Linked DNA regions of Homo sapiens. The protein of the gene in region 5 interacts with the protein of the main gene of each other region in a pairwise test. Each region holds a gene or a part of one and is shown on either strand. Other genes may lie near its edges. The genes, in order: RAET1G, RAET1L, RAET1E, ULBP2 and KLRK1.

Region 1 (6,974 bases), on a different chromosome or scaffold from region 5:
CCGTGGCCCTGGGTTGGGCTGTGCCTGAGGACATGGTGGGTGGTGCTGAAATGGAAGCACAAGAGTGACAACCCTTGTCCAGGCCCCAAATCTGAGGAGATGCCTCCTCAGCTCCTGCTGACCCAGGTCATCCTGGAAGGCAGAGGTTTTGTCCCCTCTGCTATGGGGCAGCCCCTGGGAGAGTTCCTGGGGTAGGAAGGGAGAGGGGGTGTCCCTTGGCCTCAGGGAGCTCACAGAGCTGCTGAGGGAAGCAAGGTGACAGCAAAGCCCACCCTCCTGCTGTGGCGGAAGAGGAGGTGATGCTCCAGGGTGCGGGAGGGGAGGGTCACGAGGCTGGCCTTGGAGGAGGTTTTGATGGATTTCCAGAAACAGACCAGAGGAGGAAAGGAAAAGTGATTCTCAAGAGGGAACACTAAGGAGAAAGGCCTGAAAATAGTGACACCTGCAGTTTCGAGGCTGGTGAGAAATCCACAGTGTGGGGAACAGAAGCAAGTGCAGTGAGGAAGAGGAGTCAGGAGGGAGAAGGAAGAGGAGGGTGGGAGAGCACAGGCACGCCAGCACCCCCAGGAGGAGCACCCCACGAGGAGGTCATTTTAACATAAACGTGTACACTGGGATGATTGAAGCTGAACTCAAGAATTAGTTTCTTGAGATCCCCATTTCTGATCTCATTGGAGATCCCCATTTCTTTTTCTCCTGTTACCTCCTGCACTTGGCTCCAGGGTGCTGTCCATGCCCATCAAGAAGTCCTCAAGCCATCCTGTGCAGTCTCCCATTGAGATGTAATGGAAGGACATGGTCATATCCTTGTCATTCTCCCACTTTTCTTTCATCTTTCTGGCTCCAGGATGAACCGTTGTCCACATTCTGTTTTCTGAGTCAAAGAGGAGGAAGATCTGTCCATCGAAACTGAGCTGCCAAGATCCACTGCCGTGTCCTTCGGCTTTCTGCTCACAAGACATCCTGGCCTGCAGGGTGAGGGGTTCTGCCCCCATCAAAGAGAGATCAGCTCTGGCCTTGACAGATATTGAGCCCCCATCCTCTTCCACTTGCAATTTCCTGGTCTTACTTGCTCTGCCACATCCTGGCCTTGCCTCTAGACGTCTTGCGGGGTGAGATGACCTTCCTATTTGTATTTTTACATGAAAACTATAAATGCCTCTAACCTACCACTGTATCTGCTCCCTGCTGTCCTGGGCCATCTGAAACTTACCCTTGGGTATGTAATTCTCCAGCTGAATGTCAAGCAGTTGCTCTGTAAGTATGTCCACCACCTCTCTCAGTACTGGGTTCTGTGCTTTCCAGGCCGTTGTGACATTTAGTTTCTTCCCCAGGGGACTGACGGGTGTGACTGTCTTGCTGCCACAGTCATAGTGAAGAAAAGTCTTTTCATCCACCTGGCCTTGAACCGCACACCACCGTGGTCCAGGTCTGAACTTAGGGATGACGGTGATGTCATAGCAAAGAGAGTGAGGGTCTGTGGAGAAAGGCAGGTGAGGGGTGGGTGGGGAGGAAAAGACCCCTAGATACCCCTCCTCCACACTGTGACAATAAGAGGAAGCCTCTGGAGGGCTGGGCTGGCCCAGCAAGGAGTGCCTCCTCCAGAACTGTGGTGTCCACAAGATTAAGGCGAGTGCTCCCCACTTCCATGAGGGCAAAGAGGAGGAGGAGGTCCCTGCCTGCTGAGAAACCACATGTCCCCAGACATGTCCCACTGCCCCTCTGTCCACATCGGTCAACACAGGACCTTGCTAGAGAGGTGCCAGGAGTGCTAGAGGAGGAAGGGCCTGGATGACAGAGGATCTTCAGCAGTAGCCCACGTGGACTGTGGGAGGTGGGACAGGGTGTGGGAGCTGCACCTGAGGATACTGGTGCATGGTGGGACGGAGTGAGGATGGAACCCAGTTGGATAAAGAAGAGTTAATTATCATGGTCACAGGATTTAACACGTTGGCAAAGCCCCTGGTGGTGGTGCTCATCTACTATGAGGATGCCTTCCTGAAACCTTGGACAAAGGGATGGTCCACACAGCAAGAAATAGAAAAATCTGAAAATCTAAGGCAGGCAGTAGACGGAGGGATCACAGGCTCAGAGAAGTGCCCAGGCTGGAGGGGTCTGAGTGTGAAAATCCAGAACAATGTCCATCTGCTGTGCTCATGGGAAGCCTGGAGGACTCCTGTTTACCTGGCATATAAAGAAGGCCCCATGAGAAGGCACCAGAATGGGATGAAGCTCAGGGATGCCTATTGCTGAAGGCCAGGGTTGGGGGTAGGAGATGCTCTTCCTGAAATGGGCTCCCAGTAGTAATGGGATGAAAAATCCCGAAATAACAGATTCCAGGTGGAGGTTGTCAACTGTCAGGAACAAGGAGGGTGCAATGATGGAAATGATTAGAGAAGTCACAATGCCAGCTGGAGACCTCAGTCATACAAAGCTATGCCCATGGCTCATAGAACAAAGGGGTCCAAGATCCAGAAGAGATGGAAACCCAACCTGAATAGTGCTGGATTTAAATAATTACAAGAAACAGAGATAAAACAAATGATGGATGACCAGGAGGCTGAAAGTAGCCAGTCCTTCAAGAACAAGGCTGCTTTGCCTAATTTGCAGAATAAAGCCACTTCTCAGACCGTGAACCCATGACTAGAAGAAGACACCAGTTTCCAGTGAGGAAGGACCCTTTAACCCCGCAACAAGTGCAATGATTCTTTGTGGGCTTCTCCAAACGTATTTATGGCCACTAGAGTTTGCTATGAAGGGCAATTTTGTAAACATGTAAAGGTGTGCAGGGAATATATTCTCCATTGTAACTACTCAGCTCTGCTGTTGAAGCGCAAAGGCAGCCACAGGCAATCCATGAATGAGCGAGGCTGGACCTGCCTTAAGTGCCCAATGACCCAAGACCCCCTAAGATCCTAGAGGTGCATGTGGTTCCAATGTCTAATTGGAGAATCACAACATAGATTCCATGTGAATGTTCAGAGGCAAGGCAACGCCACTCACAGCAAGGAAATCTCAACATTAAAAAGTGTCTCCTGTAGAGTACTGGGCCTTGGCAGAGATGGGGCCTTTAGCCATGGAAGGGCCGTGACCATCCAGCCTCAGAGCTGCCCATTACGGGTGGGCTCCTCACCCTCTAGGTCATTAGGAAGAGAGGTCTGGCAGTGAGAAGACACAGGTGGTTCTCCTGGGATGGGCAGAAGTAGGGCCACAGGGAACCGGGAAGCTGCACAAGCAGTTGGCCCCGATTCCCAGGACACCACGTGGCTGCACCCCCTTACCCTCAGCTTACACCTCAGGTTTCAGGGAAGGTCACTGATGGCCCCCGTGGACCATAGATGCCACTCAGCAGCAAAGGAGGGGAGAGTAGACCCTGAACCATGGGACCCCCACTCCCATCACATCCACACCACCCAGAAGCCACAGGCAAGGTAGGACCACCTTCTACTCTCCAACTGACACCTGAGACACCACTTGGAGATGACACCATAGGGGATGGGGTACTATTTGCTGGTACACTGTAATCCCCTCATCTAGGGTCAGCAACCTAGGACAGGGTCCAAATCTGGTCCCCCCTATTTGAAGGTTGCCATTGCCTGCTGTTGCTCTGCAAAGGGACAGGACTGGACACTGAGACGGAGAACCCAAGGCCTGCAAAGATCACAGGGCATCCTTCCTCCCTTTCTAGAAAGGGTTTGCTGACCCCTGTCTACACACTGACTATTCTCTATGATGCTGGCGCCCCAGTAGGAAGAACAGGCAGGTCTGGGCCCCAAGGGCAGAAGTGGGTGCCTCTACTCACCAGAGTTCCCAGGGTCATCCTGGAGGAAATGGTGCTTCCCATCCCCCCTGCACAGGTTCTGTGGGGAGCTTGGGGTGTGTTTGCTGGGGTGTGTCCTCAGGCAAGAGGCAGAAGGTGTCACGTGGTGTAAGAGGTCGCGAGGGCCCCTTCATGGATGGGGAGACCTCTGGGGTGACCAGCTGGGCTGAGGTGGGGAGTAAGAGGATGTTACCTGGGTGGTGGCAGTGGATGGTGAGGGGAGGGTGGGAAGTGTCTGCTGAGCCGCTGGGTGCAGGTGAGTGTCTACAGGAAAGTGCAGGGAAAAATTCAAGGGCACGCAGCCCTGGGGGTGCTGGAAGGTTTGTGTGGTTGAGAGCGGGTGAGAACAGAGCAGGCTGGTGGCTGGTGGGAGTGTCTGTGATTGTGTCCCTGTGCAACCCCACTTCACCCCTGTCCTGACCCCAGCTCGGATTCTGGGGGCTCTGGTTTCTCCTTCCCGAGGGCGGGTGGGACTGCCGGGCTGCACTAGGGATCCCCGCTCCACGTCGCCCTCTGCAGCCCTCTGGCCCCTCCACTCTCCGGGGGTTCCTTTCCAGCCTCCTCTCTGACCAGCTCCTCCCCTCGGAGGATAAGTAGCCTCTGGGAACGGACCCGGCGGGAAGGAGACGCGGAGGGAAACTGAGCGGGGGCGCAGTCCGGGGTGATCGCACGGGTCCTTCCAGAAGCCTCCCCTCCTCTGAAGCCCACAGTCCACAGCCCCCCACGGTTGGCCTCCGCCCCGCTTAGGCTCCATCCCCGAACTCACCGGCCAGCCCGGTCCTGCACCAGCTGGACAGCAGGAGCAGAAGCGGGAGGCGTAGAAGGAACGCGGGGCTGGCGGCCGCTGCCATTGGGGAGTTGGATCGCAGGGGACAGCAGAAGCGAAGCCCAGCCCGTGGATCACCTGGCGGCTCGCAGGCTGTCTGAATGCAGCCCGTCTGAATGCAGCCCTAAACTCCAGTAAGCCCTAAACTCTAGCACTCCTTCTGCCCCGCCCCTCGGAGGAAACACACCCCCTTTGCTGAGCCGCTAGCCAATCAGGTGTCTCTCAGCCAAGTTGCTCATCCAAGTCTACCCCACTTTCTACTGCAGCGCTCGCGCACTTCCCCCTGCTTCAGCCAGTCAGACTTTGCTGGCTGCCTGCCCGGGACCAGTCCTGCCAAAGGCTTCTTTCCATGACCCCCTCATGTAATCATCACCGCAATTTTTTCATTTTGTATTAATCCAATGTGGATACCGATGCACAGAAAGGTGAAGAAAATGCACAGAAGTGTTCAGCCGCGACAGGGTCTCCCTGTCCTCGCCTGTACCTGCGACACCCGCCTTCCCTCTCCCTGCGTTGCAGAGTGCTCCCAACCCACCGTCCTGTGCGCAGATCCAAGCCCAGTCCCATCCCCGCGGCCTCATCCCAAATCCCGAGTGGACGTGGTTATAGCCTGGGCTAGGTTTGTTTGTTTGGTTGGTTGGTTTTTCTTTCTTTTCTTTTTTTTCTTCGTGACAGAGTCTCGCTCTGCCGCCCAGGCTGGAGTGCAGCGGCGCGATCTGGGTTCGCTGCAACCTCTGCCTCGCGAATTCAAACGATTCTCCTGCTTCAGCCTCCCAAGTAGCTGGGACCACAGGTGCGCGCCACCAAGCCCGGTTAAGTTTTGTATTTCAGTGGGGACGGGGTTTCACCATGTTGCCCAGGCTGGCTTTGGACTCCTGGGCTCAAGTGATCGGCCCGACACGGCCTCTCAAAGTGCTGAGATCACAAGGGTGAGCCACCACGCCTGGCCCGGGGCTAGATTTTATTACAGAAGCACCAGGTCTTCAGAAGCTTCAAAGAAGATATTGTACACTAAACAATTGGTTAAGATAGTAAATTTTATGTTCTACTTTTTTACCAAAATTAAACAGCTTTAAAAATTATCTTAAAAATATGTGTCTTGCTGGGATCTGCCCAATTCGGATTGGCAAAAAGACTCTGCTCATTAAAATCTTTGCATTTTAATGCAAAGCATTGAAAACCTTGTCTCTAAAATCACAACCTGTGAGGCACCTTGCTGATTTAGAAAGCACATCAGAGAGATTGACCCTGAGCTCCCCTTAGAACAGTGCCCCACCAGGTGTGGGGATGGCCCAGGGGACTCAGCAGAGCAGGTTCAAATGAAAGCTCCCCATAGCTACTAACTGCCAGCGCTTGCTTTGGGCCTGTTCCCCCTGGGCAAGGACCAGCCATCCTTCCAAGCCGCGCACAAATACCCCCTCCCATGTGTGTCCCTCATCTTCCCACATGAAGGAACACCCTCCTGCTCCCTGAGGCCTGGATCCACAGTGATGGAGCGTATCCGGATCTCCCTGTGTGACAAATGCTCACACATTTCTTTGCTTCTCTACTAGAAGCATGAGGTCTTTGAGACTATACTAGATCTGTGTACAGCTTTTGAGGGAAAAAAGCCCTAGTGGCCTACTGTTGCTCAATTGGAATGTGATCAATTGTGTTTCCCATGGGAGCAGGAGGCAAGGGAGGGGTCTGTGCGTGCGTGGAGCTCACTTTGCAGTACACCCATCTGTGGCCAACCATTGATGCCTGGATCCATGGCTGCACCCACACCTCTGCTCAGTCCCTGGACGGTCCCTGCGGCCATCCTCAAAAGGAAACCCCAATTGTATCCTTGTCTTAATTATCATGAGGGCATCTGGAAGTGGTGGCAGAAGCCAGAGACAGGTGAGGGTCCCAGTGGTTCCTGGCAGCTGTGAAGGGCTTAGCTTAGGGTGAGGACTGGACAGAGCCCCTGGGTCCCATTCTGCCCCCAGCCACTCAGGCAATATCCTCTTTTCCCCTTCTCTCTCAGCCTCTTCTCACCCTAGGGCTGTACCCAAAGCTCTGAATGAGACTGTCCCTGCCCCGCCCCATCCACTCCTGGTCCAGCTCAGCAGTGACCTTGGAACTCCAGGAGCAGCTCAGTACCCCTGTCTCCGAGTCAGCTCTGCTCCAGGCAGGGCCAGAATCTGGAGTGTGCAGGAGGCCGGATGGCAGGGGCATTGCCCCAGGACTGAGCCGTATTCTGAGGGTTCCCAGAGACCTGACCTCCTACTTGTATACAGTCTTTTCAGTCAGCGTCTGCCTTAAAGGCTGTGACCCAGGCACCTTCCCTGGGAATTAACTCCAGCA
Region 2 (7,323 bases), on a different chromosome or scaffold from region 5:
TCTCTAGATCACGGCCATTATAATCACCTTTCAGCCACGTCTATCCCCATCCTGGGCTGGCCTGAATCTGGTGGCCGAGAGTCTGCAGCAGGTGTGAGGCAGGAGGGCCCAGGTGTGCACAGAGTCCCCTCCTACTGTCACCTGGCTGTGCTGCCTGGGACTCTTCTGCCAGGCTTCTGCCTTCCTCCTGTTCCCCCAGTCCCCCGGTCACTGGCCCAGGTCACCCAGCCTCAGGGGTGGGGGCTGCCAGGGCCTTCCCAGTACCCTCCTTTCAAACGCTCCTGTTCCCAGCCCTATGCATGGGAGGCACTTCTCACACACAGATCCCTGGACCTGCCAAGCTCTGCCCCTCTCAGATCTGAGAACTGCCCACCCCCGTGTGTCTGTTGTCCTCCAGACCACCCTCCACATGGCCCCTCCTGGACAGAGGCTCTAGTGCATCAGGCCAGAAACTTCTAGGCTCCTGTGTCCCTGCACAGTCACAGAGGGGCTGCTATCCCATCCCCCTGTGCAGAAGCAGAGACAGTCCCTGGGCTTGGTCTAGGCCTCCTCCCCTTTCCCGCAGCCTCAGGGCTCTGGGGATTGCTGGTCACCAGGTGTGCATCCTCCCCACATGACAACTGTGTGGAGAAGAAGGTCTGTGTCTATTTTACTCATTTAATAGGGAGAAGGCTGAGTGGCTGGGGGCAGTGTGGGACTCAGGGGCTCTGCCCATTCCTTATCCCAACAGCCAGGGATCGCTGGGCCCCCCACCTCCCTCTGCCTTCTGCCCACAGGTCTAGATGCCTTCATGGTGACTAAGACAAGGGGGCACTTGGGGTTGCCCCTTTGATAATGAGTCCAGTGACCATCTAGGGGCTGAGCAGAGGTGTGGGTGCAGCCATGGATTCAGGTGTGGTTGGCCACGGATTGGTGTGCTGGAAAGTGAACCCCACACGTGTGTAGACTCCTCCCTCGGCTCCTGCTCTTCGTGGAAACACAATTGATTACATGATTGAGCAAGTTGTTCACTAGGTCTTTTTAGGAAGGGATGTAGTATATTCTCAAAGACCTCATGCTTCTAGCAGAGAGGCAAAGAAATGTGTGAGCAATTGTCACACAGGGAGATCTGGATGCACCCACTGTGAACCCAGGTCTCAGGGAGCAGGAGGGTGTTCTGTATTGTGGGAACATGCAGGACACACATGGGAGGGGGTATTTGTGCCCGGCTTTGAAGGATGGCTGGCTCTTTGCCCAGGGGGAAGAGGCCAGCAGAATGCGCTGACAGTTGGGAACCACTAGGAACTTTCAGTTGAACCTGCTCTGCTGAGCCCCCTGTGCCATCGGTGGACCTGGGCCAGGGCGGCTGCTGAACTGGGAGCTCAGAGGTAATCTCTCTGAGGAGCTTTCTAAATCAGCAAGCGTGTCACAGGTTGAGATTCTAGGGATGAGGTCCTCAATGCTGTCCTCGATTTTAATGAGCAGCCTTTTGGCCAGTCTGCACTGGGTGAAGCAGAAGCAAGACATAAATTGTTAAGATAATTTTTAAAGCTGCTTAATTTTGGTAAAAACATAGAACATAGAATTTACCATCTTCACCAATTGTTTACTATACAATATGTTGTTTTGAACCTCTGAAACCCTACCTGCTGTTTCTGTAATAAAACCTAGCCCAGGCCGGGCACGCTGACTCATGCCTGTAATCCCAGCACTTTGGGAGGCCGAGGTGGGTGGATCACCTGAGGAAAGGAGTTTGAGACCAGCCTGGCCAACAAGGTGAAACCCCATCTCTACCAAAACTACAAACAATTCGCCGGGCTTGGTGGTGGGCACCCGTAATCCCAGCTACTCCAGAAGCTGAGGCAAGAGAATCGCTTGAACCCAGGAGACAAGGCTGCGGCGAGCCGACATCGGGCCGTTGCACTCCAGCCTGTGCAATAAGAGAGAAACCCCATCTCCAAATACATAAATAGATAAAGAAATAAAAAATAAAACCCAGCCCGGACTGTAACCACGCCCACCGGGGACTGGGGAAGTAGTGGAGGGGACGCGAACAGGCCCATGGCTGTGCCCAGGGCGGGGTGAGCCAGGGACCCCGCGGCGCAAGCGGAAGGAGGGAGAGTGCCGCGGACCCAGGCGGGGACAAGGAGACGCCGAGGCCGCTGAATATTCCTCTGCACGTTTCTTCACCATTAATAAAAAATGCTATAATGATTAAATGAGTCTGTCGTGGAAGGAATCGTGTCCTGGCAGGAGTGGGGCCCGGGCACGAGGCCACCAAGCTGCCGGAGCGGGTGAAGAAGGGAAGGGACACTAGCATGGAAACTGGATTTCGTCCAGACAATGAAACGAAGAGGTGGAACGCGCCCAGTGACTACGCCCAGTAGCATTAAAATCTGGCTTTTCAGAATCGAGGTGACTCATTCCCCGGTACATTCCCCAGTAACTAACAGTATATAAGCCAGCCTTTCAGCACAGAGGTGATTTCATCTTCCAGGATCCACCTTGATTAAATCTCTTGTCCCCAGCCCTCCTGGTCCCCAATGGCAGCAGCCGCCATCCCAGCTTTGCTTCTGTGCCTCCCGCTTCTGTTCCTGCTGTTCGGCTGGTCCCGGGCTAGGCGAGACGGTGAGCTGGTGGATGGAGCCTAAGCGGGGCGGGGGCCAAACCTGAGGGACTGTGGACTGCAGCGGGTTTCAGAGGAGGGAAGGCTTCTGGAAGGACAAGGGAGATCTCCCCGAACTGCGCCCCCAGCTCAGTTCCCCTCCTGGGCTCCTTCCCGCCGGGTCCACTCCCCAAGGCTGTTCTTGCCCCAGTAGGGGCGAAAAAGAGCAGGGTGAAAACGAGGCTGGCAGGAGGGTGGAGGGGCCAGAGGGCTGCGAGGGCTAGGTGGGGCCCGGATTCCTAGTGCAGCCCGGCAGTCCCACCCGCCTTTCGGAAGGAGAAACCAGAGCCCCCCCGGGAACAGAGCTGGGGTCAGGACTGGGTGAAGGGGGGTACCACAGGGATACAATCACAGACGCCCCCACCAGCCACAAGCCTGCTCTGCTCTCACCTGCTCTCTACCACACAAACCCTCCAGCACCCCCAGGACTCCCTGCCTTTGTTTTCCCCGCACTTTTCCTGTAGACACTCACCTGCACCCAGGGGCTCAGCAGATACCCGCCACCCCTCCCCTCACCATCCACTGCCACCACCCAGGTCACATCCTCTTACTGCCCACCTCAGCCCAGCTGGTCACCCCTGAGGTCTCCCCATCCATGAAGGGTACCTCACCACCTCCTACACCACGTCGCACCTTCTGCCTCTTGCCTGAGGACACACCCCAACAAACACACCCCAAGCTCCCCTCAGAACCTGTGCAGGGGGGATGGGAAGCACCATTTCCTCCAGGATGACCCTGGGAACTCTGGTGAGTAGAGGCACCCACTTCTGCCCTTGGGGCCCAGACCGCCTGTTCTTCCTACGGGGGTGTCAGCGTCATAGAGAATAGTCACTGTGTAGACAGGGGTCAGCAAACCCTTTCTAGAAAGGGAGGAAGGATGCCCTGTGATCTTTGCAGGCCATGGGTTCTCCGTCTCTGTGTCCAGTCCTGTCCCTTTGTAGAGCAACAGCAGGCAATGGCAACCTTCAAAGAGGGGGGACCAGATTTGGACCCTGTCCTAGGTTGCTGATCCCAGATCAGGGGATTACAGTGTCCCAGTGCCCCATCCCCTAGGGTGTCATCTCCAAGTGATGTCTCTGATGTCAGTTGGAAAGTAGAAGGTGGCCCTACCTTGCCTGTGGCTTCTGGGTGGTGTGGATGTGATGGGAGTGGGGGTCCCATAGTTGGGGGCTTATTCTCCCCTCCTTTGTGCTGAGTGGCATCCATGGGGACCATCAGGTACCCTCCCTGAAGCCTCAGGTGTGAGCTGAGGGTGAGTGGGTGCAGCCACGTGGTGTCCTGGGGATCAGGTCCAACTGCTTGTGCAACTTCTTGGTTCCCGGTGGCCCTGCTCCTGCCCATCCCAGAAGAACCACCTGCATCTTCTCACTGCTGGGCCTATCTTCCTAATGACCTAGAGGGCGAGGAGCCCACCAGTAATGGGCAGCTCTGAGGCCTTCAGGAATAGGCATCCCTAAGCTTCATTCCATTCTGGTGCCTTGTCATGGGGCCTTCTTTATATGCATGGCAAAAGGCCCCATCTCTGCCAAGGTGCAGTACTCTACAGGAGCCACTGCTTAATGTTGCGATTTCCTTGCTGTGAGTGGCATTGCCTTGTCTCTGAATATTCACATGGAATCTCTGTTGTGATTCTCCAATTAGACATTGTGACCACATGTACCTCTAGGATCTTAGGGGGTCTTGGGTCATTGGGCACTTAAGGTAGGTCCAGCCTCGCTCATCATTCATGGATTGTCTATGGCTGCTTTTGAGCTTCAACAGCAGAGTTGAGTAGTTACAATGGAGAATATATTCCCTGAACACCTTTACATGTTTACAAAATTGCCCTTCACAGCAAACTCTATTGGCCATAAATATCTCTGGAGAAGGCCACAAGGACTCACTGTCCTGGCTGCAGGGTTAAAGGGTCCTTCCTCACTAGAAACTGGTGTCTTCTTATAGTCATGGGTTCAGGGTCTGAGAAGTGGCTTCATTCTGCAAATTAGGCAAAGCAGCCTCGTTCTTGATGGACTGGCTACTTTCAGCCTCCTGATTTGGTTTATCTCTGTTTCTTGTAATTATTTAAATCCAGCAGTATCCGGGGTGGGTTTCCATCTCTTTTGGACTTTGGACCCCTTTGTTCTATGAGCCATGGGCATAACTTTGTATAACTGAGGTCCCCAGCTGGCATTGTGACTTCTCTAATCATTTCCATCATTGCACCCTCCTTGCTCCTGACAGTTGACAGCCTCCACCTGGAATTTGGAATTTCAGAATTGTTCATCCCATTACTCTGGGAGCAGATTTCAGGAACAGCATCTCCTACCCCCAACCCTGGCCTTCAGCAATAGGCATCCCTAAGCTTCATTCCATTCTGGTGCCTTCTCATGGGGCCTTCTTTATATGCTGGGTAAACAGGAGTCCTCCAGGTTTCCCATAAGCACAGTGGATGGACATTGTTCTGGATTTTCACACTTAGACCCCTCTGGCATGGGCACTTCTCTGAGCCTGTGATCTCTCCCTCCACTACCTGCCTTAGACTTTCAGATTTTCCATTTCTTGCTGTGTGGACCATCTCTTTGTCCAAGGTTTCAGGAAGGCCTCCTCATAGCAGATGCATGCCATCACCAGGGGCTTTGCCAACATGTTACATCCTGTGACCATGATAATTAACTCTTCTTTATCCAACGGGGTTCCATCCTCACTCTGTTCAACCAGCACCAGCATCCACAGGGGTGGACCCACACCCTCTCCCACCTCCCGCAGTCCACGTGGGCTACTGCTGAAGATCCTCTGCCATCCAGGCCCTTCCTCCTCTCTTGCTAGAGAGGCCTGGCACCTTTCTAGCAAGGTCATGTGTTGACTGATGTGGGCAGAGGGGCAGTGGGACATGTCTGGGGACATGTGGTTTCTCAGCAGACAGAGACTTCCTCCTCCTCCTCCTCCTTGTCCTCATGCAAGGGGCGAGCACTCGCCTTAAACTTGTAGACACCACAGTTCTGGAGGGGGCACTCCTTCCTGGGCCAGCCCAGCCTGCCAGAGGCATCCTCTTATTGACACAGCGTGGAGGGGGGCTAACTAGGGGTCTTTTCCTCCCCACCCACCCCTCACCTGCCTTTCTCCACAGACCCTCACTCTCTTTGCTATGACATCACCGTCATCCCTAAGTTCAGACCTGGACCACGGTGGTGTGCGGTTCAAGGCCAGGTGGATGAAAAGACTTTTCTTCACTATGACTGTGGCAACAAGACAGTCACACCCGTCAGTCCCCTGGGGAAGAAACTAAATGTCACAATGGCCTGGAAAGCACAGAACCCAGTACTGAGAGAGGTGGTGGACATACTTACAGAGCAACTGCTTGACATTCAGCTGGAGAATTACACACCCAAGGGTAAGTTTCAGATGGCCCAGGACAGCAGGGAGCAGATACAGTGGTAGGTTAGAGGCATTTATAGTTTTCATGTAAAAATACAAAAGGGTCCTGGGCACGGTGGCTCACGCCTGTAGTCCCAGCACTTTGTGAGGTAGAGGTGGGCCGATCACAAGGTCAGGAATTCGAGACCGCCTGACCAACATAGTGAAACACTGTCTCTACCGAAATGCAAAAATTAGCCAGGCATGGTGGCGCATGCCTGTAATCCCAGCAACTTGGGAGGCTGAGGCAGGAGGATCCCTTGAACCCGGCAGGCAGACGCTGCAGTGAGCCGAGGTGGTGCCATTGCACTCCAGCCTGGGCAACAGAGTGAGACTTTGTCTCAAAAAAAAAAAAAAAAGCCAGGTGCAGTGGCTCAAGCCTGTAATCCCAGCATTTTGGGAGGCTGAGGTAGGCGGATCACAAGGTCAAGAGATCGAGACCATCCTGGTTAACACAGTGAAACCCTGTCTGTACTAAAAATACAAAAAAATAGCCGGGTATGGTGGCGGGCGCCTGTAGTCCTAGCTACTTAGGAGGCTGAGTGAGCCGAGATCGCGCCACTGCACTCCATCCAGCCTGGGTGACAGAGCGAGACCCTTTCTCAAAAAAAAAAAAAAAAATACAAATGGGAAGGTCATCTTACCCCTCAAGAGTCTAGAGGCAAGGCCAAGATGTAGCAGAGAGAGTAAGGCCAGCAAATTGTAAGGGGAACAGGATGGGGGTGCAAAATTTGTCAAGATCAGAGCTGATCTCTCTCTGATGGGGGCAGAACCCCTCACCCTGCAGGCAAGGATGTCTTGTGAGCAGAAAGCTGAAGGACACAGCAGTGGATCTTGGCAGTTCAGTATCGATGGACAGACCTTCCTACTCTTTGACTCAGAGAAGAGAATGTGGACAACGGTTCATCCTGGAGCCAGAAAGATGAAAGAAAAGTGGGAGAATGACAAGGATGTGGCCATGTCCTTCCATTACATCTCAATGGGAGACTGCATAGGATGGCTTGAGGACTTCTTGATGGGCATGGACAGCACCCTGGAGCCAAGTGCAGGAGGTAACAGGAGAAAAAGAAACGGGGATCTTAAATGAGATCAGAAATGGGGATCTCAAGAAGTTAGTTCTTGAGTTCAGCTTCAATCATCCCAGTGTACACGTTTATGTTAAAATGACCTCCTCGTCGGGCCCTCCTCCTGGGGTTACTGGCATGCCTGTGCCCTCCCACCCTCCTCTTCCTTCTCCCTCCTGACTCCTATTCCTCACTGCACTTGCTTCTGCTCCCCACACTGTG
Region 3 (5,758 bases), on a different chromosome or scaffold from region 5:
GTCTGGGCAGGAGCAGGCAGGGATCAAGCGCCGGTGGAGGTCAGTGCCCACAGCTGAGCTGAACAGAAGTGGGAGGCAGAGTGGGCCTGGGGAAAGGTGTATTACAATTCAAGGGGAAAAAAATATATCTGCCACCCTTTGGGGAGGGCCTCCCCACTGTGTCGCATGGATTTCTCTGTCACGGGGAAGAGCAGCACCCAGGGAAAAAGAGCTTTGTGTGCCCATGACACATTCCTATTTTGTTGTCTCTGGCATTTCTGGGCATTGTTTCTGCTGAAGTGACAGAAGAGAGAAAAAGCTGATCAAAGCTAAATGACAGAGCAAAGGGGTTGACAGGGAGTGTCTTTTCAAATACACAGGGACATTCACCAAGAAGGGCCATTTTTGGATCATAAAATAAATCTCATCTGGGCGTGATAGCTCACTCCTGTAATCCCAGCACTTTGGGAGGCCAAGTTGGGTGGATCATTTGAGGTCAGGAGTTCGAGACCAGCCTGGCCAACATGGCGAAACCCTGTCTCTACTAAAAATACAAAAATTAGCCGGGTGTGGTGGCATGGGCCTGTAATCCCAGCTACTCGGGAGGCTGAGACAGGAGAATCGCTTGAACTCAGGAGGCGGAGTTTGCAGTGAGCTGATATTGCGCCATTGCACTCCAGCCTGGGTGACAGAGTGAGATTCCATCTCAATAAATAAATAAATAAATAAATCTCAACATATGTAAAGGGTTAAAATCATGCGAAGCATCTTGTCCAAGCACAATGGAAATAAACTAGAAATCAACAGCAGGAAGCTATCTGGAAAAATCCTCAAATGTTTGGATATCAAATAATATGCTTCCAAATAACTATATATCAAATTAAAAAGTACAAGGAAAACTAGAAAGTATTTTGAAATGAATGAAAATGATAATACAAAATATCAAAATCTATCAGACACAGATAAGAAAATGTCTAGAGGCATCCACACTGAACTTTTTGATCTCTGAATCACCGTGCATCATTGCTGCCAAATTTTTTGCTCATGCTCATCTCTGCCTGGAATTTTCTTTCTTACCTGACCGAATTCCAGACAGCTATCCAAGTCCAGTTTAACTGTCACCTCCTCTAAGAAGTCACCATTCTTCCTGGATAGAATTAACTACCCCCACTCGTAGCTCAGAAACTCTGACCACAGAAAAATTATCACATTGTTTTATGATTGGGTGTATGTCAGTAAATTGATGCGCTTACTTGAGGACATTACTTTTGTAACCTGAGAATCTATCATGGCTGCTATATAGTAGACGCTCAGGACATGTGAGGACTTGAGTGGCAGCGGAGGTAAGGGTCATCTCCTGGGTATGGAGCTTGGACAAGAACCTGCACTCTTCTGTTCCATTTCACCTCAACCATCCATGTCCCCAACCACATCTCCACCATCCTACCTGTACCAAGTGCTAATCCTTTGAATCATGTCAGTGACTATCTTCAGCTCAATCCCAATCACAGGTCAGGAGGGAGGGCATCAGGTATACTGTGAGCAAAACAGAGTATGAGATGGGGCCAACTGGCCTCTGGATTAGGGGCAGGGCTTGTCCTGTATGAGGACAGGGAGAAATGAGGTTGCTAAGTCTCCCCAAGACCCCTGCCAAATCTCACCATAGACATAAGATGAGGTGAATTTCATTTATCGCCTGGGCATTCACGACCTGAGAGGCTTAGCTCTGGGTCAAGTTGAGCCCTCTCTGTCCCTGGCCAACAGGAGAAAGGCAAAGGCTGAATGAGTCTCGGGGACTGTCTCTGCTTTGCAAGTGGGCCCTGAGGTGAACAGGGACCTTTCCAAATTAATGCATCCACAGCGGTTTGGCAAAGTCGGGCTTTAAACCAGGGTCACTCTCCAGGGGTTGCCTATGTGATGGGTGGTCTGATGGACAGAAACACAGAGGGTGGGCAAGACACAATTTTGGGTGGGGCAGCAGCTTGATGATCTGACCATCTGACCATGGGAAAGTATATCACATGCCAAAGGTTGAGGGGTCTCTAGGTTTAATTCCTAGGAGGACATAATGAAGAAGGCTGCCTGGGCTCCAACAAAGCAGGCTGGAGGCAGGGCCACACAGACCGTGGGAGAGGGGATTGTGAGCAGAAGGGAAGGCTGAAAGTGAACCCTAGACACTCTGTGAGGACAGCAAGGACTAGAAGGTGGGATTCCTTTGACACCTGGGTTTCTGGTTCACCCCTGACACAGGAATCCTGGCAAATGGCGTCGTGCCAAGCCCCACCCTCAGTGCTCTGGACCTGCCGCAGGGATACCCTTGCCCACAGCTGGAAGACTCTTGCCCCCGCTGTGGGCCTTCCCACTGTGTTCCCACTGATACTTTGCCTTCCTTGGCTCTGAACCCCTAAAATCTCTGCTGGGGTCTGGGTCTAACTAATGATGAAGTAACGGAAAGTGAACAATCATAAACTAGATGACAGAGAGGCAGAATGTGAACAATAGCGGCTGATCTCTCCCTGAGAGAGAGGTGGGATCTGAGTCCTGAGAGATCACGGAGGGGTCAATCCTGAGCTGATCTGACCCAGGGTTCTGCACTCTTTTGTCTCCTTCCTAAAGGCAGAAGATCCACCTAGAGGTGATACCACGGCGGCGCAGAGTTGTTCACCTGTGGTCCTCGATCGCTGACAGCCTTGGCTCCCACTGCTGTGTGTTCCCTGAGTCAAGTGGAGGCGGAGCCTGCAATGAGCGGAGATCGCGCCTCTGCATTCCAGTCTTGGCAACAGAGCAAGACTCCGTCTCAAAAAAAAAAAATTTTTTTTCAGTACATATTTTTTAAAAGATAGGGCTGGGCACAGCAGCTCACATCTATAATCCCAACACTTTGGGAGGCCTAGGCAGGAGGATCACTTGAGCCCAGGAATCTGAAGCTGCAGTGAGCCTTTGCTCGTGAGATTGTGGACCTATGATCCTACCACCAGCCCACCTGGTTCTAACACCCCCTCCTCTATGTGTGAGAGGGAGAGAAGAAAAGTGAGGGAGAAAAGAGAGATAAGCAAAGAACAGAGAGGAAAAATGGAAAATAAGAGGAAATTGGGGGAATTAAACAGAGGGGAGGGCATGGATCCCCGGGAGTTAGAAGAGTAGCAGCTTGTGGATTACTACGCAGTGGAGGAAGAAGAGTTGTTGGAAATTATTTGAGAGGTAGTATAATCATTTGTGAGGCAGTTTTCTGCATTCACCATTTCTCACAGACTAAGTTACTCATAAGCAAACGTGCAATTCACATTACACTGAAATTCTTCCCTAATACATCATTTGCATTGGAATAAAGTACGGTTTTCAAACAACCTGATATAGCAGAACTGACTGTATAAATTATGTGAGCACAGTGCAAGTAATTCTTTGTTTGTTTGTTTGTTTTTTTGAGACAGAGTCTCACTCTATCTCCCAGGCTGGAGTGTAGTGGTGCGATCCCGGCTCACTGCAACCTCGATCTCCCAGGCTCAAGCGATTCCCCTGCCTCAGCCTCCTGAGTAGCTGGGATTACAGGCATGAGCCACCACGCCCGGCTAATTTTTGTATTTTTAGTAGAGACGGGGTTTCACCCTGTTGGCCAGGCTGGTCTCGAACTACGGACCTCAGGTGATCTGCCCCCCTCAGCCTCTCAAAGTGCTGGGATTATAGCATGAGCCACTGAGCCCAGACACAAGTAGTTCTTTCTGATAAACACTTTAACACTGAATGCAAAAAAAAAAAAAAAATTGTGTGTGTACTTTTTTTAATTTTACTTTAAAATAGACACACCAAACATGTTTCTAAATAAATGTAATATGGAAATCTTTCTTTTTCTCCTCCATTCTCAGTGATGATATGGTTGTAAATTCTTATCATCTGATAATTTTTATCAGATCTTTACAAATTATAAACTTATTTGCAACTCTGTTTTCAGACTATCCCTTCTATTATGATCATGAAACTGAATTAAATAGGTAGCTATTTTTTTGACTTTTACTCCTTTATTTTTATTTTCATAGTTTTACAAGAATATAATATATGTAATCTGTCTTCCATTTTAAACCTAAAGTCTTCCTAATCTCTTCTTCATAGTTTCAACAAACATAAAGGTAACAATTCAAAGCACCTGTCGCTTCGACAAGAAGATATTTTACATATTTAAAAAAACAGATAACAATTTTAAAATACTTGCTATAAGAATAAAATTGTATTTAATAAGTAGAACTAAAATTTTGACTGATGTTGCAATAGATTTGGTGGGGGCTTTTTTTGTGGGTCTTTTTTTTTTTGAGTCAGGGTCTTGCTCTGTTGTCCAGGCTGGAGTACAGAGGTGTGAACGCAGCCCACTACAGCCTTGAACTCCTAAGCTGAAACGATCCTCCTGCTTCAGCCTCCCATACTGCTGGGACCACAGGCATGAGCCATCCCACCCAGCTAATTTTCAGATTTTTTTTATAGATATGGGCGTTTCACTATGTTGCCTAGGCTGGTCTCAAACACCTGGGCTCAGGTGATCCCCTGCCTCAGCCTCCCAAATCGCTAGGATTACAGGCATAAGCCTCTGTGCCTGGCCTCTTTATTATCATTATTATTTTATATTTTCAAACTAGGAAAAAAGCTATGCAGTAACAGAAAATTCTAGTTATATTTAAAACAGGATTGTAAGAGAAACATGTTAATGTAATTTTGGTTTTCTCTTTTTTATAATTTTAACATTTTAGATTCAGGGAGTACATGTGCAGTTTTGTTACATGGATATATTGTGTGACACTGAGGTTTGAGATATGAATGATCTCATGTAGTGAGCAGCAGCACAGTACTCAATGGCAGTTTTTAGTCCTCGCCCCTCCATCTCTCCCCTCCTCATAGTCCCCAGTGTCTACTCTTCCCATCTTTATGTCCATGTGTACCCAAAGCTTAGCTCCCACTTAAGAATGAGAACATGCAGTATTTGGTTTTCTGTTCCTATATTAATTCACTTAGGATAATGGCCTCCAGTTGCATCCATGTTGATCCAAAGGACACAATTTTGTTCTTTTTTATGGCTGCATGGTATTCCATGGTGTATATGTGCCACATTTCCCTTATCCAATCCACAATTGATGGGCACCTAGGTTGATTCTACGTCTGCTGTTGTGAATAGTGCTGCAATGAACATGTGAGCATGTGTGTCTTTTCGCTAGAATGATTTCTTTTCCTTTGGGTATATGCCCAGTAGTGAAATTGCTGGTCAAATGGCAGTTCTGTTTTAAGTTCTTTGAGAAACCTCTGAACTGCTTTCTGCAGTGGCTAAACTATTTCACATTTTCACCAGCAGTGTAAAGTGTTCCCTTTTCTCTATAGCCTCATCACCCATATGCTATTTTTTTACTTTTTCCCCCCAAAGTCTCAAGTTTTATTTAAATAGCCTCCAGTGAGAACAGAGTGGGCCAGTGACTACCCCTTCCTTGTAAAGTCTATTAACCAAACCAAGGAGAGTAAGCACACCCTGCAGCCAGCCTGCCAGCCAGTCATGTGATAGGCGGGGTGCCTCTCAATGGGGGCGGCCACGACCACGGCCCCAGCTAGCTGCTGGGGGAGCATCCACAGTCAATCGGATTCTTGATGGTTTCATCCACAGACACAATCAGGCACACAGCCTAAGAGGCCACTGCCAGGGCATTGATCCATACCAAAGCTGGCTCCCACACGAAGGCCTCAAAGTTGTCAGCAATGTCCTCGTTGTTGATGTCCACCTCATATCACGTGCCCCTGGGAATGCCAT
Region 4 (5,401 bases), on a different chromosome or scaffold from region 5:
GGGCACGGTGGCTCACGCCTGTAGTCCCAGCACTTTGTGAGGTAGAGGTGGGCCGATCACAAGGTCAGGAATTCGAGACCAGCCTGACCAACATGGTGAAACACTGTCTCTACCAAAAATGCAAAAATTAGCCAGGCATGGTGGCGCATGCCTGTAATCCCAGCAACTTGGGAGGCTGAGGCAGGAGGATCCCTTGAACCCGGCAGGCAGACGCTGCAGTGAGCCGAGGTGGTGCCACTGCACTCCAGCCTGGGCAACAGAGTGAGACTTTGTCTCAAAAAAAAAAAAAAAAAAAAAGCCAGGTGCAGTGGCTCAAGCCTGTAATCCCAGCATTTTGGGAGGCTGAGGCAGGCGGATCACGAGGTTAAGAGATCGAGACCATCCTGGTTAACACAGTGAAACCCTGTCTGTACTAAAAATACAAAAAATTAGCCGGGTATGGTGGCGGGCGCCTGTAGTCCCAGCTACTTAGGAGGCTGAGTGAGCCGAGATCGCGCCACTGCACTCCATCCAGCCTGGGTGACAGAGCGAGACCCTTTCTCAAAAAAAAAAAAAAAATACAAATGGGAAGGTCATCATACCCCTCAAGAGTCTAGAGGCAAGGCCAAGATGTAGCAGAGAGAGTAAGGCCAGCAAATTGTAAGGGGAACAGGATGGGGGTGCAAAATTTGTCAAGATCAGAGCTGATCTCTCTCTGATGGGGGCAGAACCCCTCACCCTGCAGGCAAGGATGTCTTGTGAGCAGAAAGCTGAAGGACACAGCAGTGGATCTTGGCAGTTCAGTTTCGATGGGCAGATCTTCCTCCTCTTTGACTCAGAGAAGAGAATGTGGACAACGGTTCATCCTGGAGCCAGAAAGATGAAAGAAAAGTGGGAGAATGACAAGGTTGTGGCCATGTCCTTCCATTACTTCTCAATGGGAGACTGTATAGGATGGCTTGAGGACTTCTTGATGGGCATGGACAGCACCCTGGAGCCAAGTGCAGGAGGTAACAGGAGAAAAAGAAACGGGGATCTCAAATGTGATCAGAAATGGTGACCTCAAGAAGTTAGTTCTTGAGTTCAGCTTCAATCATCCCAGTATACACATTCACGTTAAAATGACCTCCTCGTGGGGCGCTCCTCCTGGGGTTACTGGCATGCCTGTGCTCTCCCACCGTCCTCTTCCTTCTCCCTCCTGACTCCTATTCCTCACTGCACTTGCTCCTGCTCCCCGCCCTGTGGATTTCTCACCAGCCTTGAAACTGCAGGTGTCACTGTTTTCAGACCTTTTTCCTTAGTGTTTCCTCTTTTGAGAATCACTTTTCCTTTCCTTTCCCTGGTCTGGTTCTGGAAATCCATCAAAACCACTTCCAACGCCAGCCCAGAGATCCTCCCCTCCCCAACTCTGGGGCATCACCTCCTCTTCCCCCACAGCAGGAGGGTGGGGTGTGTTGTCACCTTGCTTCCCTCAGCAGCTGTGTGAGCTCCCTGAGGACAAGACTCACCCCGTCTCCCTTCCTAAGCCAGGACCTGTCATACTGGCTGCCCCACACCAGGGGGGAGAGGACAAAACTTTTGCCTTCCAGGATGACCTAGGGTGGCAGGAACTGAGGAGGTGTCTCCTCAGATTTGGGGCCTGGACAAGGGTTGTCACTTTTGTGTTTCCATTTCAGCACCACTCGCCATGTCCTCAGGCACAACCCAACTCAGGGCCACAGCCACCACCCTCATCCTTTGCTGCCTCCTCATCATCCTCCCCTGCTTCATCCTCCCTGGCATCTGAGGAGAGTCCTTTAGAGTGACAGGTACTGTGGGCAGAATTGGAAGTGGAGCAAGGAGCAGGTGGGTGAGGAGGCAGGATGGGGAAAGAGAATTCCCGGAGTCCCGCCCCTCCCCGTGGCTGGGACCTTCTCATCCTAACATGAGACAGGTGAATGAGACCTTGTGTTGCCTGTTGGCAATGTTGGCAATGACCTGGGCAGCTCAGCCCTGAGTTCTGATGGATTCTCACCTTCAGAGTCCAGAGGGAAAGGGAGGGGCCCATACCAAGGCTCAGGGTCTGTTGAGCTTGAGAAGGTTTAGCAAGTTCAGGCCTGATTCAGAGCAGGTTCCTATTCAGGAAGGGTGTGTGGCCTGCAGGCAGCAGGAATTCAGACATGGGCAGTCCTCTTAATTGGGTTAGGTGCATCATGGTAGCTTTACATGAGGTGTGACAGGGGAAGGGGGATTCCATCTCTGAGGCTAAGAGAGATCTGGGTGTAATCCCAGGAGGAGGGGGCTGGGAGAACCTTGGTACACCTAATTGAAAAGGAGGGAGTGCAGGGCTGCCTTCCCACAGAAAGTGGCTTGGGTTCCAGGAATTAAGGTGGAAGGTGAAGAGTAGAGGCTGCTCAAGAGAAGGATTTTTAAAAAGTCAGTCCCATGGACATGTGCAGCTCGAGTCTGGGCCCTGAGGCAGCTCCCCTGCCATCATCCTCCTGCACACCCCAGATCCTGAGCCCACTGATGGCCCTGCCTGGAGCAGAGTGGACTCAGAGGAAGGGGGGTCTGAGCTGCTGCTGGGGTTCCACAGGCACCACTGGGCTGGACAAGGAATTGATAAGGTGGAACAGGGACAGTCACCTTCAGAGCAATGGGTGCTGCTCCCAGTGTGAGGAGAGGCTCAAGAAGAAGGGGAAAGAAGGATGTTTGCCTGCAGGCCCACCAAAGGCCAAGGGCACAGGAATATGGAGCCCTCTTTTTGGAAGTCTGCCCCACCCCTTGCCTGTTTTAGGCCTTCACATCAGATCATAGAGAGGGCCTTGAGTGAGGGCGCGGACCCATCACTACCAGCTTCAGACCTGCAGGCCCCTCCACTCCATCCCCTGGTCAGGTGCAGGGCCTGGGCTGACTCTGTGATGTGACAGAGGAGGAAAGAGGTAGGTCCAAGCTGCAGTCGCCAGGGTTGAGGCTCAAGGGAAAAATAGGTCCCTTAGTGCAGGGGGCTCTGAGACATAGAGTGACTAGGGAAAGATTACCCTGGAAAAGTGATCCGGGTTCTCTGCCCCTTAAACCAACATTTGTGTCCTTTCTGAAGGTTAAAGCTGATACCAAAAGGCTCCTGTGAGCACGGTCTTGATCAAACTCGCCCTTCTGTCTGGCCAGCTGCCCACGACCTACGGTGTATGTCCAGTGGCCTCCAGCAGATCATGATGACATCATGGACCCAATAGCTCATTCACTGCCTTGATTCCTTTTGCCAACAATTTTACCAGCAGTTATACCTAACATATTATGCAATTTTCTCTTGGTGCTACCTGATGGAATTCCTGCACTTAAAGTTCTGGCTGACTAAACAAGATATATCATTTTCTTTCTTCTCTTTTTGTTTGGAAAATCAAGTACTTCTTTGAATGATGATCTCTTTCTTGCAAATGATATTGTCAGTAAAATAATCACGTTAGACTTCAGACCTCTGGGGATTCTTTCCGTGTCCTGAAAGAGAATTTTTAAATTATTTAATAAGAAAAAATTTATATTAATGATTGTTTCCTTTAGTAATTTATTGTTCTGTACTGATATTTAAATAAAGAGTTCTATTTCCCAAAAACCTACGGTGTTTAGAATTTTGTTGTATTACTCAGTAGGGAATTAATGTTATTTCATTTTTCCTCCATGATATGGAGTAATAAATGAGTGATTCTACCAGATTTTGTGTGGAAAAAGAGAATCTACAAAACATGGCTGAGAAAAATCAGAGACAACACAAATACATAGAAAAATATTTCATGCTCATGGGTTGGAGAATCAATATAGCTAAAATGGTCATACTTCCAAAAGCGATTTATAGATGCAACACTTTCTCTATCAACACCAATGTCATTTTTCACAAAATTAGAAAAATCTAATCTAAAAGGTATTTGGAATTAAAAAAGAGCCCAAATAGCCAAAACAATCATAAGCAAAAAGAACAACGCCAGAGGCATCACATTGCCTGACTTCAAACTATAATATAAGGCTACGGTGATCGAAACAGAATGGTACTGGTACCAAAATAGACACTTAGATCAGTGGAACAGAATAGAGAGCTCAGAAAGAAACCTTCACACCTTCTAACCTTCAACAAAATCAACAAAAATAAGCAATGGGAAAGAGTCCCAATTCAACAAATGGTGCTGGGATAACTGGCTAGCCATGTGCAGAAGAATGAAACTGAACCTCTACATTTCACCATATATGTAAAATAACTCGACATGAATTAAAGATTTAAATGTAAGTCCTAAAACTATAAAAATCCTGGAAGATAACCTAGGAAATGCCACTTTGGACATAGGGCCTGGCAAAGATATCATAATGAAGACACCAAAAGTATTTGCAACCAAAAACAAAAACTGACAAATGTGATCTCATTAAACTAAAGAGATTCTCCACAGTAAAAGAAATTAGCAACACAGTTAACAGCCTATAGAATGGGAGCAATATCTGCAATCTATGCATCTGGCAAAGCTCTAATATCCAGAATCTACATGGAACTTAACAAGCAAGAACAAAATTGCAATTAAAAAATAAGCAAAGAATGTGAACAGACGCTTTTCAAAAGAAGACATGCAAGTGGCCAACAAACATGAAAAAATGCTCTTTGGGAAGCCGCAGTGGGCAGGTCACAAGGTCAGGAGTTTGAGACCAGCCTGACCAACATAGTGAAACTCCGTCTCTACTAAAAATACAAAAATTAGCCAGATGTGGTGGTGCATACCTGTAACCTGTAATGGTGCATAGTCTGATGTTGGAACTATGAAGTACCTTGGACTGGTACTTTATAGTGTTTTCCAGCAGACAGCACTGCTTATTTTTCAAATATTTCAATAAGTCGGGAGGGTTTGCTGACAGCGAGTTTGTGCCCTGAGCTCTTTGGCACTGAGGGCAAAGAGCAGAGGGGTGTGGTCTGGTGGCCCAGCATTTCTGCCCCGGGGGAGGATTCTCTTCTGCTGCAGTGAAAACCAACAGGACGCTGCTTCATCCCAAGGGGACTAGGAAGATAGGTCAGAGTGAGGAGCTTTCTGAGTGTTTCAGATCACACAGTGACTGCCTGCTTGATGGCTTCAGAACTCCTTCATTAGCTGGGAGACAGCCCCCGAGGTAAAAGGTGCATGGGCACGATGGGCTCGACATGACAGCTTTCGAGATGACAGGCAGTTTCTCCCGTGTGTTTCTATGTGTCTTTGTGTGTGCCCGTGTATGTGCATGGCTGTGTCTGTATTTCTGCATGCATTTATGTATGTGTGTTTGTTTGTGTGTGTGTGTGCCTGTGTGGTGTGAGTGTGTGTGTGTGACTGTGCCTGCATGTCTCTGTGTGTGTGCATGTGTGTCTGTGTGTGTGTGTGATAACATGCATATATGAATGGTGAATTGATTTTCTGCTTGATTTGCTATGGAGGGA
Region 5 (6,540 bases):
TCAGTGAAGAAGATATATTCTCCAATGACTTTTTTCAAAGCAGAATATTATTGGTAATAGACCTTTATATAGTTTGTATGAAAAGGAAAACAACAGATGACCCTCACTTATCAATTTTTATTAAAAACTAAGAAACAAATTATTAACAAATAGCATCTCTTTACAAGAATTAATTTAAGGAATGCAAAGTGCTATATGTAAAAATCCCTTTTTGGACTAAAATATTCAATTGTTACCAAAATTTAAAACACACATGCCCTTTCCCTCAACAATTATCATTGTGGGAATTTATCCCAGAGAGAGACTCAAAAATATGCACAGATGGGTATGAAATGTATCATTATTTCTCATAGCAAGACCTAAGAAACAATTTAAATATCCACTGGAAAAAAAAATTGACAGTCCGTCAAAAATTAGATCTGTCCAGAGTTGTCAGTGAAATACAATGCAGCTATTTATAAATTTGGTATCCTTATACGCCATGAGGACTAATCACCAGGATATTGTCTTAGGTAAAAAAAAAAAAAAAATTCATAGGATATTTTGTGTATTATAGTTTCTTTAAAATGTATTTTTAATATGTAGTTAAGGGGAACGGTAATTTTTGTTTATTTTTAGTTGGCATGTAATAATTATACATATTTATGGGATACAGTGATATTTCCATTCAACTATACAATGTCTAATGACCAAATCAAGGTAATTAGCACACCCATCACCTCAACATTTATCACTTCTTTGTGTTGGGAACATTCAAAACCTTCTCTTCTAGCTATCTGAAAATATACAATAAATTACTCTTAACAGTACTCTCCCTACAGTGCTATAGAACACTAGAAAAATCCCGCATGTAGCTGTAATTTTGTATTCATTAACCAACCTCTCCCAATCTTCTCCTCCCCCCTATTCTTTCTAGCCTTAAATAACCACAATTCTACTCTCTACTTCTGTGAGCTAAAAGTTTGTATCTCCTACATATGAGTGAGAACATGTGGTATTTATCTTTCCATGCCTGATTTACTCTACGTAACATTATGTACTTCTGACTCATCCATGTTGGTGCAAATAATAGGATTTCATTCTTTTCATTCTTTTTTTTATGACTGAATGGTATTCCTCTGTGTGTGTGTGTGTGTGTGTGTGTGTGTCTGTGTGTGCTTAGCTATTTATCTGTTAATGGACACAGGTTAATTCCATATCTTGGCTATTGTGAATAATGCTGCAATAAACATGGGGGTGCAGACGTTACTTCAATATACTGATTTCCTTTCCATTGGAGAAAGACCCAGATTGCTGAGTCATATGGTAGTTATATTTTTAGTTTTTTAAGGGACCTCCATACTGTTTCCATAATGGCTATACTAATTTACATTCCCACCAAAATTGTATAAACATTAGCCTTTCCCTGCATCCTCACTGTCATTTGTTATTTTTTGTCTTTTTAAATAATAGCTATTCTAACTAGGGTGAGATGATATTCATTGTGGTTTTGATTTTCATCTTCTTGATGATGAATGATGTTGAATTTCAAAAAATATATCTGTGGCTATTTGTATATCTTCTCAGAAATATCTATTCAGATCCTTTGCTCATTTTCAAATCAGTTTTTGTTGTTGCTGTTGAGTTGTTTGAATTCCTTGTATATTCTGGATATTGGTCTCTTGTTAGAGGAATAGTTTGCGAGTATTTTCTCTTATTCTACAAGTTGTCTCTTCACTCTGTCAATTGTTTCCTATGCAGTAGAGAAGTGTGTTAGTTTGATACAATCTCATTTGTTTCTTTTTGCTTTTGTTGCCTGTACTTTTGAATTCTTACCCATAAAATCTTTGCCTAGACTAATGTCCTGTGGTGTTTCTCTTATCTCTTCTAGTAGTGTTATAGATTCAGTTCTTATATTTAAGTCATTAATCCATTTTGAGTTGATTTTTGTATATGGTGTGAGATGAGGGTCTAATTTCATTCCTCTATGTGGATATCCAGTTTTTTCAGCTTCATTTATTGAAGAGGCTCTCCTTTCCCAGTGTATGTTATTGGTGACTTTCTGGAAAAATCAGTTGGCTATAATACATGGATTTATTCCTGGGTTGTCTATTCTGTTTTATTGGTCTAGGTGTCTATTTTTATATCAATGCCATACTGTTTTGGTTGTTGTAGTTTTGTCGTATATATTGAAGTCAGGTAACGTGATGCCACCAGTTTTCTTCATTTTTGTTCAAGATTGCTTTGGCTATTCAGTCTTTTGTGGTACCATATAAATTTTAAGATATTTTTCTATTTCTGTAGAGAATGTTACTGGTATCGTGTTAGGAATTGCACTGAATCTGTAGATTGCTTTGAGTCATATGATTACTTTAACAATATTCTTTCTGTCTATGAACATGAGATGTCTTTCCATTTTTTTGCATCCTCTTTGGTTTCATTCATCAGTATTTTACAGTTTTCATTGTAGAGGTCTTTCACTTGTGTGATTAAATTTATTCCAGGGTATTTTATTATTTGTAGGTATTACAAATGGAATTGACTTCTTGATTTCTTTTTCATCCAGTTTGTTATTGGTGTATAGAAACACTACTGATTTTTGTATGCAGATTTTTGATCCTGAAACTTTACTGAATTTGTTTATTTGTTCAAAGGCATGTTGTTTAATTTTCATGTATCTGTGCAGTTTCCAAAGTTCCTCGTTATCAATTTCTAGTTTTATTCCATTGTTGTCAGAAAATTTACTTGATATAATATTGACTTTTGGAAATGTTTTGAGACTTATCACCTAGCATATGGTCTGTCCTGATGAATGTTCCATGTGCTGATAAGAAGAATGTGTATTTTGCAGCAGTTGGATGAAATGTTCTGTACATTTAGTTAGGTTCATTAGGTCTATATTATAGTTTTACTCTGATGTTTCTTTTATGATTTTCTGCCTGAATGATCTGTCCATTGCTTAAAATGTGTTGTTGAACTCCCCTGCCCTTATTGTATTCATCTATTTCTCCCTTCAGATCTATTAATATTTACTTAATATATCTGAGTGCTGTAATATTGGGTGCATATGTATACTTATAAATACTATATTATATTGCTGAAGTGACCCATTTGTCATTATATAATGGTCTTCTTTGACTCTTTTTTACTCTTTTTGACTTAAAGTCTATTTTATCTAAGTATAGCTGTGCCTGCTCTTTACTGGTTTTCATTTTCATGGAATATCTGTTTTCATCCCTATACAGTCAGTCTATGTGTGTTTTTATGAGCAAAGTGGGTTTCTTGTAGGCAATATATTGTTTGGTTTTTTTTGTTTTTAATCCATTCAGTCACTCTATGTCTTTTACTTGGAGAATTTAGCCCCCTTGCATTTAATATTATTATTGGTATGTAAGAACTTACTATTGCCATTTTGTTCCTTGTTTTCTAGTGGTTTTGTAAGTCTTCCTTTCTTCCTGTCTTCCTTTGTGATTAAGTTGCTTTCTCTGGCAGTGTATTTTAATTCCTTGATTTTCATTTTAGTGTATCTATTATAGGTTTTTGTTTTGTGGTTACTGTGAGACTTACAAGGACATCTTATAGCTTATAGCAATTATTTTATACTGATGACAGCTTAACTTTGATCACAAAGCAAAGAAAAACAAAACAACAAAAGAAAAAACTAAACAACTCTACACTTTAACTCCATCTCCTCTCACATGTTGACTTATGTTTGTATGGATTTACATCATTTTATATTGACTATCTCTTAATAAATTGTAATTACTATTATTTTGATAGAGTTGTCTTTTGGTCTTCATAAGATCTGAGTGGTTGAGGCACCACAATTACAGTATTAGAATATTCTGAATTTGTCTGTGTACTTACTTTTATCAGTGAGTTTTATACATTCAAATGTTTTCTTATTGCACATTTGTGTTCTTTTTTTTCTGACTGAAAAAACTCTCTTTAGCATATCATGTAAGACAGGTCTGGTGGTAATAAATTCACTCAACTTCTGTTTGCCTGAGAAATACTTTTTCTCTCCATCATGTCGATAGTTTTGCTGGGTACGGTATCTCAGTTGGCATTTTGTTTTCCTTGGGTCTTTGAATATGTCACCCCACTTCCTCTTGGCCTATAAAGTTTCTGCTAAGAAGTCTGCTAACAGATGTGTTGAAGCTTCTTTATATTTATTTTGCTTTTTAAATTTTGCTTCCTTTAAAATTCTCACTTTGTCTGGAGCTTTGAACATTTAAATTTTATATGTCTTGTGGTGATCTCATTTGGGTTGAATCTGCTTGCTAATCTTTGACCTTCCGGTATTTGGTTATTCATATCTTTCTCTGGGTTTGGAAAGTTTTCTGTTTGTCCACAGCCTCCCAGACCAGTGCTGTGCCAGGGCTTGCCCAAGGGCCATGGTTGCTATGGCCTGCAACCACTGAAATTTTCTTGGGACCAAGGCCACTTTAGTCAGCTGGTGATAAAGTGGGCTGAGACTAAGGTTCTTCCTGCCTAAGCAGTGGATTCACCTCTGGCCCACGGTGGGTCAAAATGCTCCCCATATGAGCACTGGTTTGGAATCAAGGGCCATGGGGTCTCTGTCTTTTGCTGTGTTCCAATGTGGTGGGGCCAGGTCTAAGTTCCGACACAAAGTCCCACACTCTTATTTCCATTTCCCAAGCAGGCAGTTTTTCTCTAAGCACTGCACTATCTGGGTTTGGAAGAGAGGCGTTTAGGCAAGGCAAGACCATCTTTTCTTACCTCTTTAATGTGTTTTTTCTCGTTATCATGCTAAAATCAGGGTACTGTGATAGCGCACCTAATTTCTTGAATTCTTTTGAAGGTATTTTCTTGCATGGATAATTATTTAATTTGATGTTTCTGTGAGAAGATAATCACTAAAGGGTTCTTCACAGCCAGCTTGCTCTTCTGCCATTTTCTTAATTGTTTTCTGATATACCTGTTGTTTTGCCTACCCATTGATTTTTTTCTCCTCTATCATTATTTATCTTTGTGGTTTGGTGGTTCTCTGTAGCCATAATGTTTGATTCCTTTCTCTTTCTTATTTGTGTATCTGCTCTACCAACCAGTTTTATACTTTTGTGTATTTTTATGATGATAGATATTGTCCTTTTGCTTCCAGATATAGGACTCCCTTAAGCATCTCTTGTGGGGCTAGTCTAGTGGTGATGAATTCCCTCAGTTTTTGCTTGTCTGGAAGAGTATTTCTCCTTTATTTCTAAAGGATAGTTTCGCTTAATACAGTATTCTTGTTTGGGAGGAGGTATTTTTTTTTTTTGGCATTTTGAATATATCATCCCATGCTTTTCTGGCCTGCTGCTGGAGAAAGTGGGATTGCTGGCAGTGGTGGCACTGGGCTCCAAGTGAGTGGCTCTGGGAATCTGGGGGGGCGCATGCATGACTCTCTCTATGCTGAGGACAGACTCTGTGCTTGGCTGCATCTCCTGTTCCCTGGGCATAGGGCTCTGTATAGGCTTGATGCAAGGGTCATGACTACACCTTTGGTTGGGATCACCTGGTGTGGCTATGCTACAGTCCTCTAGGTGGATTTGGTGGAATGTCAGCAGGGCCCCAGGGATGTGAAGATGCATAAGCTATTGGGCCCCAAACATGCGAAGATAAAGGAACTATTAGGCCCCAGGGCAGAGCGTACTTTGGTGGTGGCTACACTCTCAAAATGGTGCAGTGCTGCTGCAGCCTGTGTTCCAGAGAAGAGGAGGGACCCCAGTGTGAATTCCCACTCTGGAATAATGCAGTTATGTGGATGTCAGTGAACTCCCTATACTGGACTCAGGGATCGTGAGGAATGTGGAGCTCTCCTATACCTAGGATAGCAGGTATTTATAATGGGAATGTGGACTGCTGGGGAGCTCCTGTTTACCTTTTCTCCTCAGTGGAGAGTCCCTCTTGGCTCCAAGCTGATCCATGTCACCTGCTTCTCTTCCCTTTCTATGCTATCGCCCTGAGCATCTGTGCCTCAGAGAGACTTGGTCACTTTCTTGCTGAATTCCAGCCTTCTCCCTTCAACACTCTATTCAATGTGTGGTTATCTACTTGTTGTTTTGGTCCTTTGTGGAAGTGAGTGCTGGGTGCCTGTAGTTAGCCATCTTGATGATGCTTCCTCCTTCTTTATGTTTATTATTGTATCTGCATAAAAATAATAAATCACGGCCGGGTGCGGTGGCTCACGCCTGTAATCCCAGCACTTTGGGAGGCCGAGGCGGGCGGATCACGAGGTCAGGAGATCGAGACCGTCCTGGCTAACACGGTGAAACCCTATCTCTACTAAAAATACAGAACATTAGCTGGGAGTGGTGGCGGGCACCTGTAGTCCCAGCTACTCGGGAGGGTGAGGCAGGAGAATGGCGTGAACCCAGGAGGTGGAGCTTGCAGTGAGCCGAGATCGCGCCACTGCACTCCAGCCTGGGCGACAGAGCGAGACTCCGTCTCAAAAAAAAAAAAAAAAAAAAAAAACAATAACAACAAAAAATCATAAGCATAATTTACTCTAGGGATGACTGGGGAACTTGTAGAGAAGTATAGAAGGAAATATTACAT

What was found.
Region 1: the proteins of KLRK1 (region 5) and RAET1G interact in binary tests that used the Homo sapiens proteins (3 or more experiments, as listed by UniProt).
Region 2: the proteins of KLRK1 (region 5) and RAET1L interact in binary tests that used the Homo sapiens proteins (3 or more experiments, as listed by UniProt).
Region 3: the proteins of KLRK1 (region 5) and RAET1E interact in binary tests that used the Homo sapiens proteins (3 or more experiments, as listed by UniProt).
Region 4: the proteins of KLRK1 (region 5) and ULBP2 interact in binary tests that used the Homo sapiens proteins (3 or more experiments, as listed by UniProt).

The regions. Positions count from the first base shown.
Region 1 is NC_000006.12:149,918,340-149,925,313, forward strand, and holds the start of RAET1G (UL-16 binding protein 5 preproprotein), read right to left. Parts: upstream 4,783-6,974; 5' UTR 4,672-4,782; coding exon 4,587-4,671; intron 1,478-4,586; coding exon 1,214-1,477; intron 1,170-1,213; exon of another isoform or gene 986-1,169; coding exon 704-985; intron 46-703; coding exon 1-45.
Region 2 is NC_000006.12:150,020,671-150,027,993, reverse strand, and holds the start of RAET1L (UL16-binding protein 6 precursor), read left to right. Parts: upstream 1-2,461; 5' UTR 2,462-2,522; coding exon 2,523-2,607; intron 2,608-5,750; coding exon 5,751-6,014; intron 6,015-6,807; coding exon 6,808-7,089; intron 7,090-7,323. UniProt on the Homo sapiens protein: Binds and activates the KLRK1/NKG2D receptor, mediating natural killer cell cytotoxicity.
Region 3 is NC_000006.12:149,881,342-149,887,099, reverse strand, and holds the end of RAET1E (retinoic acid early transcript 1E isoform 1 precursor), read left to right. Parts: 3' UTR 1-2,595; coding exon of another isoform or gene 2,596-2,612; 3' UTR 2,613-3,921; downstream 3,922-5,758. UniProt on the Homo sapiens protein: Binds and activates the KLRK1/NKG2D receptor, mediating natural killer cell cytotoxicity.
Region 4 is NC_000006.12:149,945,665-149,951,065, forward strand, and holds the end of ULBP2 (UL16-binding protein 2 preproprotein), read left to right. Parts: intron 1-707; coding exon 708-989; intron 990-1,655; coding exon 1,656-1,765; 3' UTR 1,766-1,787; exon of another isoform or gene 1,788-1,792; intron 1,793-3,058; coding exon of another isoform or gene 3,059-3,063; 3' UTR 3,064-3,571; downstream 3,572-5,401. UniProt on the Homo sapiens protein: Binds and activates the KLRK1/NKG2D receptor, mediating natural killer cell cytotoxicity.
Region 5 is NC_000012.12:10,379,976-10,386,515, reverse strand, and holds part of KLRK1 (NKG2-D type II integral membrane protein), read left to right. Parts: intron 1-6,540.